Regions from separate parts of the Homo sapiens genome. Here region 2 is linked to region 1. A link means that fine-mapping ties the variant in region 1 to the expression of a gene that starts in the linked region. Tissue or cell type: whole blood. Region 1 holds a variant in brackets; the other region holds the start of a gene. All regions are shown on one strand. Distances are between the middles of the regions.

Region 1 (8,104 bases):
GGAGCCAGAAGCCCCGCAGGTGGCTCTGCTGCATGGGAAGGAACTGTTGGGATGCAAAGCAGGCCAGAGAGGACAGGAGCAGACAAAGATCTGAAGCTGAATATGGACCCCTCAGGGTGCCAGCTGTCACCCCGGAGCGCCCCCCTACCTGGGGAAGCTTTGGCAACCTTCCTGGTTGCAAGCCAAGGCCCAGGGACTCCACCGCTGGTGACCCCCTTACCTGGCCCTGGCTGTGCCCTTTGGCTCAGGGCTGGGCCCGGGAGGCTGGAGAGGTGCCAGGGTTCATTGCCAGAGGCTGCCTTGCCCCTCCCTTGTGTCCTTGTAGGCAGAGCCCTCACCCCCCTATGCTTTCCCGCCACCCACCAGCCACACCTCCTTGCCCAGGCCTCAGTGCCTGACAGATGGCCTGAATACATATATATATATTTTTTGTCTTAAAAAACTATTTTTTTTAACATATCTACAGACTCTCCCCTTACCAGGTATTTCTTGGGGAAGAAAATGTTGCTTAGTAGACAAATGTCCCCAGGTCTCCTTCAGGGAGGATGAGCATCACCTGCATTGAGGAAGGGGTGCTTCAGCAGAGATGCTCACTTCAAAGCGAGCCTCACTAGTAGCCACAGGGTGCACAGCTAGGATGGGAGGCAGTGCTGCTGAGCCAAGGGGTGGTGGGAGCAGCTCTGGAGAAACCTGGTCGGGTGGTGGGTGAAGCTGCCTCCACCCCAGCAAGCGATATGGGGCCTCCCCACTGGACTGGGGAACTGTGTATGAGGGTTTGGGGTGCAGAGACCTCAGGTGGCCTTCAAAGGAGGGGTGGCCAGAGGCCCAGCAGGTGACTCCCACACCTCTTTTACATCATCTCCTGCTGAACACCCCAGAGTTCCCTGCTTCTTACAGTGGTAACATTTGTTTAGGAGTTGTGCAGTAAGTAGACCAGGCATGGTGGTTCATGCCTGAAATCCCAACATTTTGGGAGGCTGAGGCAGGCAGATTGCTTGAGTCCAAGACTTTGAGACCAGCCCGGGCAACATGGTGAGACCCTGTTTCTATAAAAAATACAAAAATTAGCCAGGCAAGGTGGTGTGTACCTGTCATCTCAGCTATTTTGGAGGCTAAGGTAGGAGGATTGCTTGAACCTGGGAGGTGGAGGTTGCAGTGAGCTGAGATCACACCAGTCCACTCCAGCCTGGATAACAGAGAGAGACCCTGTCTCCAAAAAAAAAAAGAGAAAGTTTTGCATAAATAAAGTTAAATTATTTAAAATAAAATTATTTAAAATAAAAGTTAAATTGTTTAAAATAAGCTAGGAGAAACTTGCTACTTAAAGACATCTTTTGGGAGAATTTTTATTCAGAAGATAATCATTTATCAAAGTGATTGAGTAACCTGTAATTTATCCAGTGGAGTTTAATTTAAGCATTTGAATTTCATGTTTACCCTTTTAGCAGCTATCATTGAACCCGTCTTGGTAGCTCCAAAGCACACTTAAATATGAGATGCAGCCCCTGCCTCCATTGGCTTATGGACTGGGTGGGTGTGTAGCCACCGTGTACAGAAAGTTAAAGATGGTTCTAGGGACCAGGCAAACAGCCTGGGGTGAGTTACCAGAAGGATGATGTGAATCATCGTGTGAGATTACAGGTTGCCCATCACCATGGCCAGTGCCTCTGAGGGTTTGTTGGGATTAGAGGGGCAGCTTCCAGGCCTTTCAGGAGAGGAGGGTCTTTACATGTCTTTTGTGGGTGAGGACCTGAGGCAAGCAGAGAGAGACAGCCAGAGTTACGTGGGGCTGGAAGAAATCAGGCCAGAGTGACTGGGACCCTTGACTCTCCTTGTTAGAGGGTGTGTTTGTCCATTTTGTCCTCTTATAACGTAGTACCACAGACTGGGTAATTTATAAAGAAAAGAAGTTTATTGGCTCAAAGTTCTGGAGGTTGGGAAGTCCAAGAGCATGGTGCCAGCATCTGGTGAGGGCCTTTGTGCTGCCTCATAACATGGTGGAAGGCATCACATGGCAAAGAGACAGAGAGACAAGATAGGGGCTAAACTTAACCTCTTATGAGGAGCCCTCTCCCTGGGTAATGGCATTAATCCATTCCTGACGGCAGAGTCCTCATGGCCTAATCACCTCTTCAGCATACTGTCTCTTAATACTGTTATAATGGCAATCAAATTTCCACATGAGTATTGGCAGGGACTTCTGAACCATAGCAGAGGGACTGCCTTCCCCATGGATCCTGGTGTCCTGCACCCTGGGCCCAGTCCACTCTCTGGCTGGCACCTCTGGTTTTGCCCCCCAGGACTCTGTAAGCTCTAGCCAAGGCAGCTGGTGCTGTGCTTGCCAGCTCTGTGCTTTGACAACAACTTCTGCCTTCCCCACACTGTCTGAACTCCAGGGTCTCCTCTTCGTTTTGGTGTTGGGGGACTCTGGCTCACCACAGAGCTCCTCTCCAGGCACGTCCCTCCACAGCACCTGGGAAATCCCCTTTTCTGGCTCCAAGTGACCTATCTTCCGAGGGCTACTTGGGAATTCACAGAACCTCAGCTATGGAGAAGCTCAGAGGATTGGGGGATTGAAACCGTAGGTCATCCTTGAATGGTTAGCTTTTGAAAATAATTGTGCATTTTTCCGTGGTATGGGTTGGTTTCCTGTCCTGTCTCCACAGTGCTGAACCAAATCAGCAACGCTGCACTTTGCAACTCTGACAGTTGAGCTTCCTGGTCCTGCGATTAGAGCCCTCAAGATAGTACTGAAGCATTAGGTGAACGGTGGGGACAGAAGCCCAGACTCTGTCTGGAGTAGGGGCCCTGGAGGGACACACACCCACTTCCTATTTGGCTCTGTCCTATATGCAGGCATTTTTTTTTTTTTTTTTTTTTTTTCTGAGACGAAGTCTCACTCTGTTGCCCAAGCTGGAGTGCAGTGAGGCCATCTTGGCTCGCTGCAACCTCCACCTCCTGGGTTCAAATGATTCTCTTGCCTCAGCCTCCCGAGTAGCTGGGATTACAGGTGTGCGCCACCACACCTGGCTGATTTTTGTATGTTTAGTAGAGACAGGATTTCACTATGTTGGCCAGGCTGGTCTCAAACTCCTGACCTCATGATCTGCCCGCCTTGGCCTCCCAAAGTGCTGGGATTACAGGTGTGAGCCACTACGCCTGGCGCATGCATTTTTTAGAAGGACCTTGAGATGATTTACTATTGTTGATCAAGGAAGAAGATGAAGCGGGGAGATATGCTGCCTTGAAAGTGTCCTTTGAGCATGCAGCCTTATTTCAGCTGTATGTCAGGGTGTGTGTGTGTGTGTGTGTGTGTGTGTGTGTGTGTGTGTGTGTGTGTGTGTGTGTGTATCAGGGTTGCTGCTGAGGAGTTGCATTGCTTCCCTAAGGCCCACCAGGGAGATTCCTGTGAGGGGGTCAGACAGGGCCTTTGAAGTTTTATGTGTTATTAAAGAAGGTCGTATCTTATTACCACAAAGACCTGGGATATCTGCAGCAGGGAGTGGTAGAGGAGAGGCTGTCAGGCCAGCCCTTAACAGCGTAACTCTCTCATTCCTTCCTCAGTTCCTCCTTATCCTCCTGGCATCCAGCTCCCCATCAGAAACTGTGAATCCTAAGATATGATGGGACCATGGACCCTTCACATTTTTGTCATATTCATTATAGTGGTTCTCAGCCTTGGCTGCATGTCAGCCACCCAGAGTGTCCAAATTCTCCTCACCCAGAAATTCTGACCTCATGGAGCTGGGGCAGGATCCAGGAATTGATATTTTTTAAACCTCCTCAGGTTGATTCTAGCATCCAACCGGGGTTTAGGCCCGAGGACCACAGCCTGCCAGTTTTCGTGTGGCGTGACCTTTCCTGCCGATGATAATGCTGATGATGTCAAGCCTAGCTGAACGCTGATGGGCAGTGTCTGATTAATCGAATGAAGTAAAAATAAACAGGTTTTAACTTAATGTACCTCCCCAAATCTGTAAAGAGATCCATGGATGACATCAGTGCTGTCCAGGATGGAGTAAGCCCACTATCGTCCATTCCACTCACGGATTAGAACTCAAAACTCTGAACAGAATGAAAAGCAACCCCATCGGGAAGGGGGTTGGAGCTTGAATGCGCAGCACATTAGAATAGAGTTTCTGTGGTTGGGTTTTTTTCCCTCCTTTGATCTGAGTGCTGACTGATTTG[G/A]GAAATAGCACAGTGGGCAGAGGCAGCAAAACTCTGTGAGAAACCCATCTTTGTGGCCAGAGGGTTGAAAAGAGGAACGCTGCAAGCTGAAGATTAGGAGGGATCACTGTTTTGTTTTGTCTTTTCCTCTCTCCTGGCCCTGCCAGACCCAGAGCAGTAGCACCTACTACCCTGAGAGAAAATCCAACTCTCTGGTTGGAGGAACCGGTTGTTGCATAAAGGTGGTGGGAAGAATCCCCATTTTTTTCTCTTTCTCATTCTGCTTTGCCCTCAGCAGGGGCTGCAGTTGCAAGAAACTGTGAAAGAGTGTGATGTGTTAGGCTAAAACTCTGGGAGAGCCCCAACTTTATGGGCAGAGGAACCAGGAAAAGGTGCATCTGGTAGTAGCGGAATATGGAAGAAATCTTGGAGAGGGGAAATCTGGAAAAGAGGGTTTATTTATGTTTCTGAACCAACTCCATGTATGGGATATACCCAGAGAACCATAGCAAAGGCTTTGGATTTAAGCTGCAATAGAAACCGTGGCCCGGGTCCCAGACTTAATCCCTGAATAGCTCGTGCTTGAAGCCAACTCACAGAGCACAGCAAAGGGTTTTGAAACCGCACTGACGTTAACTCCATCCCCTAACGAAGGGGAACCAGAGCTTGTGTTCTCAACCTGAGTGGATTTATCGTCTGATGAAGCAGACACATGAAAATCAACATTCTCTACATTCTCAACATTCTCTCTCATTCAACATTTTTAATCAGGGTTAAAATGTACATATTAAAGCGATCTGGGATGCAATCTACAATTATTTGGGATACAAAGAAGCAAAAAAATCTGACTAATTCTTCAGTCAATCAATTAAAAATATTTTTTAAATGACCCAGTTCTCAAGGGAAAAGGCAATTAACAAATGTCAACCCTGAGATGACATAGATGTTGAAATTATCAAAGACTTTAAAGTGACTGTTATAACCATGTTCCATGAGGTAAAAGATGGACAGTTCTGAAATTAACAGAAACATAGAAATTCGCAGCAGGGCAATATGAAAAAAAAAAGAAAAAAATAGGAATTTTAGAATGAAGTAAAAATATTACTGGATGAGTTCAAAAGCAAATGTATATGACAGAAGAAAGAATCTAAGTTAGCTCTAAGTAGATCAATAGAAATTATCCTGAATAAAAGAAAAATGAGTTTAAGAAATGAGTAGGCCAGGTGTGATGGCTCATGCCTGTAGTCTCAGCACTTTGGGAGGCCAAGGTGGGAGGATCATTGAGCCAGGAGTTTAAGATCGGCATGGGCAATATGGTAAGACCTCTTCTCTACTAAATAAATAAGTAAATAAATAAAATTTTGCTGAGCCTGGTGGCACACACCTGTAGTGCCATCTACTCAGAAGGCTGAGGCAGGAGGATCACTTGATCCCCAGAGGTTGAGGCTGCAGTGAGCCATATTTGTGCCACTTTACTCCAGCCTGGGTGACAGAGCAAGACCCTGTCTCAGAAAAAAAAAAAAAAAAGCAATTATTAAAAAAAGGTATCATTTACAATAGCATCCCCCCAAAAAAGAAAGAACTACATATAAATAAGAAAATATACAAGATCCGTATGCTGGAGACTAAAGAATACTGATGAGAGAAATCAAAGACCCAACTCATGGAAAGATATATTTATATTTTGGAAGATTCAGTATAGTTGTGAATTCTCCCCAAATCGACCTATAGATTCATTGCAATCCCAATCAAATTTCCAGCAGGATTTAAAAAACTAGATATTGATAATGGGATTCTAAAATTTATATAGAAAAATAAGGGATCAATAGTGGAAACAATGGTTAGATCCCTGGTGAAAAAATATTCCTGATTACATGCGGGAGAATTTCCCAGAAGATGAAAAACAAGGGAACTCTGAACTTTGAATAAAGGGCACATGATCCTTATGGACTTTCTTAGTTCTCTAGGGCTGCTGTAAGAAGTCCACAGACTGGGTGGCATAAACAACAGAAGCTTACTGTCTCAGTTCTGGAGGCTGGAAGTCCCAGATTGAGGTGTCCTCAGGACTGGTGCCTCATGAGGGCTGTGAGGGAAAGTCTGTCCCATGCGTCTCCGTTTGCTTGTGGTGGTTTGCTGGCGATCTTTGATGTTCCCTAGTTTAGAGCCCTGCCTTCATCCTGTTTGTGTGACTGTCTCCACAATTCCCCTCTTTAGAGGACACCAGTCCTATTGGGTTAGGGCCTACGCAAATTACTGTATGTCAACTAATTATATCTGCAGTAATCCCCTTCCTCTCTCTCTCTCGCTGTCTCTTCTTTTCTTTCTTTCCTCACTGTGTTGCCAGGCTGGAGTGCAGTGGCCCGATCTCAGCTCACTGCAACCTCTGCCTCCCGAGTTTAAGAGAGTCTCCTGCCTCAGCCTCCTGAGTAGCTGGGACTACAAGTGCATGCCACCACGTGTATTTTTAGTAGAGACAGGGTTTCACTGTGTTAGCCAGGATGGTCTCAGTCTCCTGACCTTGTGATCCGCCCGCCTCGGCCTCCCAAAGTGCTGGGATTACAGGAGTGAGCCACCACACCCAGCTGCAGTGATCCTATTTCTAAACAAAGTATATTCTGAGGTACAGGGGATGAGAACTTAAACATATGAATTTTGAGGGGACATAATTCAGCCATAACACGGATGTGGCTTATTTTAAATCTACACAGTACTGTATGCACTTGGAAATGACTAGAAAAATGTGAAAATCACAGGGCAACAAGCAGAAGCAGACTTTTCCCCCTCGAGTCTTGTGGCCGCTTCTCTGGGGGTGACAGATTTCTTTGTCTCTGAGGATGGATCTGGTAGAGGGTGTATTTAGCAGTGTACTTCTTTGCACGGGGTCCTGGCAGCTGCAGAAGCTGCGCCCCTTTCTCCAGCATGTTAAGAAAAAGGTCAGTGCTGGTAACGTTCTGTGTTCAGTTGCCCTCTTATCTGGACCCTCGCTTTTCCCCTAAAGGCATCCAGGAGCAAACATGACATGCAGAGGTAGACTTTGCCAAGGCACCGCTATTTCCAGAAGTTCTTGTGGGAGAGAGTTGACTTCTTACTGTTAGACGTAACCCAGGAAGAACAGCAAATACCGGCCAGGCCAGAAGTGCACACAGTTACTCTGTTCCTGTTACGGCATTAATGCTGCTTTCAGGCGTGGACTACATTGTGAGATATTGAAAATGCCATTTCCTGGAGACTAGTATTGATGATGAAGGTCTGACAGCAATTTTAATGATGTTTAAAGGGCAGATCATCGCCCTTTGCGTATTTCGAGATGAGGATGCAGTGGGGCAGATGTCTCAGCATATTGAATGCCCAGAAGGAAGAAGTTAGGCCCAACATTAACCCCAAGCCTCTTCCAAGGGCTGCTGAGACTTAACACCCTTCCCACCGCAGAAATGTCACCTGACAGGTATGGCTGCCCAAGGCTTCCTGGGCTTTTTTATGCTTGTCTTTTTTATGTTATTTGTCTGTAGAAGTACTATAGCCAGGAATGACTAGAGGAAGGAAATAGGTACCATTGTCCCATCACTCGAAGGCAGCCCTTGCTAACGTCTTAATGCATTTCTTCACAGTTGATTCTGTGTTTATTTGTTGTGAATAAATCATAACAATACATATTACATGCTAAGCCTTTTGTAAATATTTCAGATGCCACAAAATTGTCTTGTGGAAGTGCTAACACTGATTTATCTAGGATCCTGTTATTGAAGGTTTAGTGTGTGCTCAATATTTTTGTCCATTTCACTGCCGTTTTCCAAAGAGAACACATCCCTTTGTGACCCTAAGCTAGGTTAGAGAGCCTTGCTTGACAGTGTTGGATATCAGTATTGTTTTTGGAAGATTAATTTATTAGTGTCCTTTCAGAGCTTGCGGTTGCCTGTGATCTTGAAGTGAAATACTT
Region 2 (8,104 bases), 150 kb before region 1:
GAGGCAGGAGAATGGCGTGAACCCAGGAGGCGGAGCTTGCAGTGAGCCAAGACAGAGCTACTGCACTCCAGCCTGGGTGACAGAGCGAGACTCTGTCTCAAAAAAAAAAAAAAAAAAGAAAAAGTAAAGGAAAAGGAAAATCACTGAAAAGTTTTCCTGTCACCCCCGCCCCAGACACTACTTTCTTTCCCAAGGGTGACAACATTTTTCAGTTTACTGTGATCCTTCCAGAAAGGCTTTATTATTGTATATGAGCATCTATAGGCTCACCCTTTTTTCCTTTTTGCTTTTTTTACTCACATGGTGGCATACTACACACATCTTCTGCCCTTTGTTCTTTCACTTAACAATTATCTTGGAGAACTTCCCATGTTAATTTATCATGCGTTTCTTCCTTCTTTTATGGCTGCATTCTATTTCAGTGTTGGGAAGTGCCCTCATGCATTGAACAGTGCCCTTTTCATGGGTATCAAGATTGTCTGCAGTCACTTACTACAGAAACATAGCACCATGAATGATTCTACTCATGCCTGTTTTGCACGTGTGATATACAAGTCAAAAAATTCCTAGAAGTGAATTCTTAGGTCAAAGAGCTTGTGCATTTGTAATTTTGATAGACATCATCTGATTTTCCTACACAGAAGTTGTACTGATTTACACTCCCATGGGCAGTGTGGGTATCTGCCAGTTTCCTCTTGCTTTCTGGAATATATTGTATTACTGAACTCCTGGGTCTCTGATCAGTGAACACAATGACATCTCAGCATAGTTTTAATTTGCATTTCTTTTTCTTTTTTTGAGATGGAGTCTCACTCTGTTGCCCAGGCTCAAGTGCAGTGGTGCGATCTCAGCTCACTGCAACCTTTGCCTCCCAGGTTCAAGCGATTCTCCTGCCTCAGCCTCCCAAGTAGCTGGGATTACCGGTGCTCACCACCATGCCCAACTAATTTTTGTATTTCTAGTAGAGACGGGGTTTCACCGTGTTGGCCAGGCTTGTCTCAAACTCCTGACCTCAAGTGATCCACCTGCCTCGGCCTCCCAAAGTGTTGGGATTACAGGTGTGAGCCACCATGCCTGGCTTAATTTGCATTTCTTATTATGAATAAGGGAGGACAGCTTTTCAGATGTTTAAAAGTCATTTGTATTTCCTTCCCTGTGAATTGTCTGCTTCTTACCCTTTACCTGTTTCTTTGTCTTTTCTGTTAAGAGACAGTCTCATACTGCTGCCCAGGCTTAGTGCATTGGGATGATCATAGTTCACTGCAGCCTGGAACTCCTGGGCTTAAGTGATCCTCCTGTCTCAGCCTCCTGAGTAGCTGGGATTACAGGTGTGAGCCAAGGTGGGGGCCTGGTGATGATCCGTGATGCCTTCTTTTGATTTTTTTTTTCTTATCAATTTCTAGATGCTATCTATGTGTTAGGGAAATTAGCTGCTTGTGATATGAATTGCAAATAATTTTTTCCCCTTTGTTGTAGACTTTGCTTATGGTAGTGATTGCCATGCCAGAGTTTCTTTGAAGTCAAACTTAGCTGTTTTTTTGTTACCACTTTTTGATTTTGTTGCATACTTAGAAAGGCCTTTCCCATTCCAAGATACTTTTTTTTTTTAAATTTAAAATTTTAAGTTCCCAGATACAAGTACAGAACGTGTAGGTTTGTTACATGGGTATATGTGTGCCATGGTGGTCTGCTGCACCTATCAACCTGTCATCTAGGTTTTAAGCCTCACATGCACTAACTGTTTGTCCTAATGATTCTTCAAAAATTCTCTGAATACTGGCAGTTGGCTCAAGCTCACCAGATTTAGGAGTCCTGAGTGAGGCTGGGGGCAGGCCTGTACCTTTATTTTTAAATTTATTTAATTTATTTCATTTTTTAAAATGATAGGGTCTTGTTCTGTCACCAAGGCTGGAGTGCAGTGGCACGATCACAACTCACTGCAGTCTTGAACTCCTGGGCTCAAGCGAGCCTCCTGCTTCAGCTTCCCAAAGTATTGGGATTATAGGTGGGAGCCACTGTTCTTGGCCCTAGGCCTATACCTTTCATCTTGTGGACTGAGGACTTCAGCCACTATCACTCCCGGGTGCTGCGATGGGGTTTAATTTCCAGTGACTGGCCCAGAGCCTGCTCATGGGAAGATCTCAAGGGAGGCTGTTGAAGGAACAGCATGCAACTTACCGGCCCACACACGTTCACACAGATGGGGGTGGGGGTTTGAGGAGGTGGGGGGTGTTGTGTGGATCAGCTTCAGGCACAGGTGTCTGGTTTCCTATGGGATGTGACCACATAACAGTAAGGCAAGAAGATGACTGCATTTATCTTCTCAGAATCACTTCTTCTTAATTGTTGCTTCCCACTATTGGCATTGGTGAAAGGCTGGGCCACAGGAGGCTGGATGAACTTTGTGTTAGCCAGGTAAGCAGAATGTCTATGCAGGTGGAAAGTAGACAGTGAAGGTGTGCTCATCTGAGTACGGAGGGGCATAGGTCAGGAACCTCGTTGGCCTGCCCTGGCCTTTGCCCCTTTGTTTGGCCCTGTGGCTACAAAGCTCCCCTACCAGGAGCAGCCCCCACTGGCGGCTCTGGCCCTGGAAACCTGTGAATGTTTGGTGGGGGCAGGGTGTGGAGAGGCCAAGTCCACAGTGTATCTAACCCTAGTCCATCTCAGGATTCGGCTTCCCCCAGCCCCTTCTCCTTAGGGTCTCAGCTCGGGCCCTCAGGGCAGCAGGAAGATGCGCTGTCCTCACTCCCAAGTCCCCCTGCCCTTCTGTGCCTTCTGACCTGGGCAGAACTTCCCATGCCACAGCTTCGCCTAATCCAGCCACAGGAGAAAAGAAAACGAGGGCAAATCACCACGATTTGGGGGGAGGGAGGCCCCTGAGCCCCCGCTCTGCCCAGACAAGGCATCCTGTGCATCTCCCATGGCTCATCACATCTGCCTGGGACTCAGTGAAAGGGCCAGAGGGCCAAAGGTGACACCGGAGTCTCCAGCACGACCTTCGAGGGCCTCCAGGGCATTTCTCGCGCTGTAGGGGCGGAAGACTGGCTCCCCTGGGGATGCATGTGAGTGTCTAGGAGTGTACGCTCCCCAGGGCCCCGCGGAGGTCAGGGTTCTCTCCATTTAGGACAGCAAGGAGAGAAAGCCCTGGAGTGAGGCCCTGGGGCTGGGGGCTAAAGCAGCACAGAGTATCAGAAACGGGGTGCTGGGATGGTTACCGGGGACCGCCAGGGAAGACTTGGGAGTCCAGCATGCGCCTAGGGGAGCTGCGGTGGGGAGGCAGCAGGGGGCCTCCTCTGCCGGATGGGGCCTTCGGAGGCCGCGATCCCCGAGAGTTCTTCGCTCGAGGGTTCTTCGCTCTAGGGTCCCCCATTACAGCTGCGCGGGGCCGAGCAAGCAGGGCGCGGCGGCCGGGGCAAGGTGCGGAGCCTCGCGTTCACCGGCTCTACCTGCGGAGCCTCGCGTTCACTGGCTCTACCTGCGGGACCAGACCCCTGCAGCTCCCCAGCCAGCACGGCCGGGGCACGCCCGGGAATCTGTGTGCTCCCCAGGGCCCGGGGCGTTCGGGGCGCCGCGCCTTCCAGCGCCTGGGTCCCAGCCCCGATCCCGGAGACCGGCCCGGGGGGACCCGGGGTCCCGAGTGCACCCTCCTGCCCTGCAGACTGTCCCAGCGCCGGGGCCAGGGGGCGCAGGACCTCGCGCACGCCCGGCACGGACGCATCTTTGTCTTCCCTCTCTTCACGGCGCGCGATCTAGCCGGGAATCGTTTTCCGGCCCCAGTGTGCCCGGCGCGGGTGAGGCGGAAGCGGCCGGGGCGGGGGCGCAGGCCCGGCAGCCGCAGGCCGGTGCGGGATGCGCCCCGCAGCCGCGCCGCGTGCGCCCGGCAGAGGCGGCCCTGCGTGCCGTACGCTGCGTCCGGGGCGCGCCCGCCGCTATTCGGGAAGCTATTCAGCTTCCCGGGCTCATTAGCAGTCGCGGTGTGCGGCTCGGCGCGGGCTCACAAAGAGCTCGGCCTCGCGGACTGAGCCGGCGGCAGCGGGGCGGGGACGGCGGCGTACCCGGGCAGCCCAGCGCCCTGGCCAGGTAAGCTGGGGAACCTGGGCTGCCTGACTTGCCGGCGGCGGCAGCCTGGGGCCGCCCGGGGCGCCGCGAGGACCCGGACGCGTGGGGGGCGGCGCGGAGGTTGCGGCCCGAGCGCTCCAGAGCGCTGCCCTCCCGACTCAGCGTGGCTGCGGGGCGGCCGCCGCTGGGATATGGGGGTACAGCCCGGCGGCCCCACTCCTCTCTGACCGGCCGCTTCCCCCTCCCACGACGGGTGGGCGGGCGGGGCGGGGACCAGGCGGCGGCTCTCGCATCCCGCGCGGGGGGCACCGCGGCAAGGGGCCACCCGGCGCGGACAAGAGGCGCTGTGTGGCGGGGCTGTCCGCTCGACTCCTGCCGGGCTGGCCGGGCTGCTTGGCACCGGCATCAAGTCCCCGTGCCGGGCGGCAACTACTGAGTTTGGGGTCGCCTCTGGGTTCGCTGCCCCCAGAGAACCCAAGCCCAGATCTTCGCCCCCTTCCCTTTCCCTTTATAATAAGGCCCAGAGGGGAAAACTTATCAATTCAAAACCCCACACCCCGTTGCTCCTGGGCTGCAGGTGCCCGGTTGGGGGCACGGCGCGGACCTGCCCCTCGGCCTGGCCCCTTCCCCATGGCAGGCACTGCCTGGCAAGGCTGCTGGCGGGAGATCTGGCTGCAGATGGTGAAGGAGAACATCGAGGCCCCCGGTCCCCAAGCAGGGCGCCATGGGCCGGGCAGCGGGCCTCGGTGTGCCCAGGCGGGGAGGGGGCGAACTTCCTTTCTCCGACGCCTGCCGAGGACCGCCGTGGAGAGCAGAGCCTTAGAGGGGCCTGCTAGTCTTAACTTCGTATTTACTGGCAGAAGGAAGGCTTAATTTTTCAGATCTATTCAGATACGACCTGGCAGGCACCAGACATAAATCTGTGGTTGAGTGCAGTCAGCTCCTAAATGGGCATGTGGAGGGTGAGGCACCCCGAACTCGGCATCTTGCGTCTGGCACTGTTTTTGGGCTAAACTGCCTCTGGCCTCTTCAACCTCCTGTGCCTCTTTCTGTTTTTGTTTTTGTTTTATTTTTCTGTTTTCCTTCCTCTTTGAGAAAGGACAGTGATTTTAGAAATAATGACCCGAGAGCTTTGCAGGTTGAAGTGGGACGAGTTTTCCTAAGGTGCAGGTTGGCAGGTGCCAGGAGCCTGCAGGTGGCTTTTTCTCAGGCCTCTGGGTCAGGGTCCCTCCAATGAGGTGAGGCAGGGGTTTCTCCTGTGTGTCGCCACTACGCAGGGGACAGGATCTGGGTTTCCCAGTCCAGGGCGTCCAGGATGCCCTGCCCTCTGTGCTGATTCCTGGGTGACCGTGGGGGCTGCTTCCCCCTGCAGCCTGGGCTGGAGAGGGTCTCCTGAGCTTAGGATCTGCCAGGCAGGAGGGCCAGGGTGACACGGACCTGGAACGCTGGGGCTCCAGGCAATGTCCAGGGCGTGAGTGGGTAAAGCTGGAGCTTGTGGCTGTGTGCCGGCAGCCTTCCCTCGGTGGGCTCTAGCAGCACTGTCAGGGGGGCCCTTGGAGTGGGCTCCATGGCTGGGCTGGGACTGGGTGATGGCATTAGCGATGGGGCACCGAGTCTTCCCTCTTATTTATTAGGAAGTGTGGTCTGTGCCCCTCCCTACTGCCGGTCTCCTGGGCTCCTGGGATGGGAGGAGCTGCAGGCTGAGTCCCACGGGGTGTGAGTGTGTGTGAGCAGGAGAGTTGGGTGGGCGCTGGAAGGAGGTGAAACTGGTGACCGTCAGCTCCTCATTCTCTTCCACCTTGCATGTTTTCTCTGACACCCTAGACTCAAGTTGTGGCCTGCTAGTTAACTTGTTTACAAAACCTTTTTAAGTAGTTCTAACCTCTTTTTTTCAACAAAATGTTAGTTTTACAGGCATAATTGGTGGGGATGGATTGTGAAATGGAGGTGCATAAATACCTAGTTTGCCAACTGAGCTAAGAAATACTGGATAAAAATAAGAGATAATTGTAAAAGACACTGATCACACCCCTGGAAGCTGAGAGGGGTGATAAGACACCTTGATTTTTCCTAGACAAAACTGAGGAAGTCAGAGGAAAAACAGTTGATGGTGAGGTTGGCATCAGGCTGGGCTTTGTTTGGATTGGGCGGCGGTGGCTGTGGTGAGGGCTGTTGGAGTGGGGAGAGTGGGGGTTGAGCCTGGCTTCAGAGACCCCCTCGAGGCCTCAGCTCCTCTCCGGCGCTCCTGGCTGTCCTCTGCCACGCATACCTGCCCCGGTGACTCAACAGGTGTGGGCCTCAGGTGACACCATGGTCCGAAGTCGTGGAGAAACCTTTACTGTCCAGGGGAGGAGAGGACTGGCGGTCGGTGGGGATCGAGACCCAGCACACATCACTGGGTGGCTCGAATGTCTTCGGCAGAGATCACATGCCCTGCCTTGCAGCCTGGTCCTTAGAGAATGGGGAGAGTGGAGAGAGCTCTGGGCCTGGGTGGCGGGCGGTCCTGGCTGTATCACTCACAGGCTGCGTGCCCTCCCCATGCAGTCTCAGTTCCTCACCCTTGCCAGGTGGCTGTGAGGACTGGGAACGTGGAGGCACAGGTAGGATGTAAGGTAGCCACTGACCACCAGGCAGGCCTCCCCGATGTAGGTCAAGTTTGAGATGGTTGCTCACCAGGAGGCAGCCTGTGTGCCCGGTGGGGGCTGGGGGTGAAGTTTGAGAGGGTTGCTCACCAGGAGGCAGCCTGTGTGCCCAGCGGGGGCTGGGGGTGCTCTTTGTTCCCTTGGGTGGTGGTTGGCCCGAGTGCCCACAGGGAGGCTTCTCTGGCTCCTTCGTTTCCCAGAGTTCCTCCCCAACCCCCTGCCGCCCACCGCCTGGGTTGGGTCCAGCTCGTGTCTCAGAGCAGCCTGCTGGCACAGGCTGAGTCAGCTGTCGTGGGCACCGTCTTTTCTCGCCTCCCCTGAAGCCAATCTTCCCCTCTCTCCCTGTCCAGACACACAAGGGAGCCCTGGGAGGTAGGTGACCTCAAGATCATGCAGCCAGGCTCACTCTGTGGAACCCTACGTACTGGTGGGGTGCCACTGCTGTGTGCATTGTGATTTCTGTGCTGGCTGTGAGGTTTCCCAGGTTGGGGGCTGTGGGGTACTCCTGACTCTGCAAGTTGGCCCAGGCCAGGTGTGTCACCATTGCCCAGGCCTTCAGTGGCTTTCCAGTGCTCCCTCCACATCCACGTTACTCGGCTGGATTTTCTCAAGTTCCCCCACTTGCTCCCAAGAATGGCCCCTCCAGGCTGCCCTGGCTCCAGGCAGACAGGCTTACTGCCCAGATCTGCCCTGGGTTGTCCCCACCCCATCCCCACCTGTCATCTTGGCGCATGTCCATCCTGGAGATCCCAACTGAATGTGGGCTCTTTCCCTCTTATTCCTTGGTCCTCAGATTTGTCAGGCCACTCTTGCCTCAGGGCCTTTGCACCTGCTGTTCCCACCCCCTTGGCATGAGCCACCCCCAGATGCTCACATGGCTGGCCCCTCACTTATTGCCCACTCCCTGAAAGCCCTACATAAATTGGCTTTGTTAACCTTGCTTTGTGTTTCTCTTGTTAACCTTGCTTTGTGTTTCTCCTTAGTACTCACCATTCAGTGTGTTATTTATTTACTTGTTTGTTTATTGTCAGTCTCTTACCACTCAATTGTAAAAGACTTTGTTCACCTCTGGATCCCCAGTAGCTAGAAAAGTGCCTGGCACACAGCAGAGCCTTAGCGCTGTTGTTGGATGAGTGAGTGAACGAAACACGGGAGCAGTAGTCTCCTTGCAGCACATGTCCTGCTCCCTGTGCCTCCTTTTCCCGCGTCCCAGAGCTGGAACCTAGCTGTGTTCACATTTGGATCCTCCTGGCATGTAGCACAGACCCTCACTCAGTGGGCAGTCAGGAAAGAGCTGTAGAATTGTACAGTGCAACGTCAGTTTCACATAGGCCAGAGGAGAATGTGTTTGGGAAGGTAAGCAGCCCAAAGAGTGAGCTTTCTGATTCTGCACTAAGATTCCT

What was found. PIP is the estimated chance that this variant, and not a neighbour inherited with it, causes the effect.
Region 2: it holds the start of APBA2, and the variant in region 1 is fine-mapped to the expression of APBA2 in whole blood (TOPMed, PIP above 0.99). The same link has a PIP of 0.9 or more in blood mononuclear cells.

What each region holds. Positions count from the first base shown.
Region 1 is chr15:29,035,807-29,043,910 of GRCh38, forward strand. All of the region lies in intron 3 of APBA2 (amyloid beta precursor protein binding family A member 2), which reads left to right. Among named protein-coding and RNA genes, the nearest start is that of APBA2, 150 kb to the left of the region's middle. The variant G/A (reference allele first, on the strand shown) is at 4,189.
Region 2 is chr15:28,882,199-28,890,302 of GRCh38, forward strand. APBA2 (amyloid beta precursor protein binding family A member 2) reads left to right here and starts at 3,776. Exons shown (of 15, transcript NM_001353788.2): 1 at 3,776-4,080.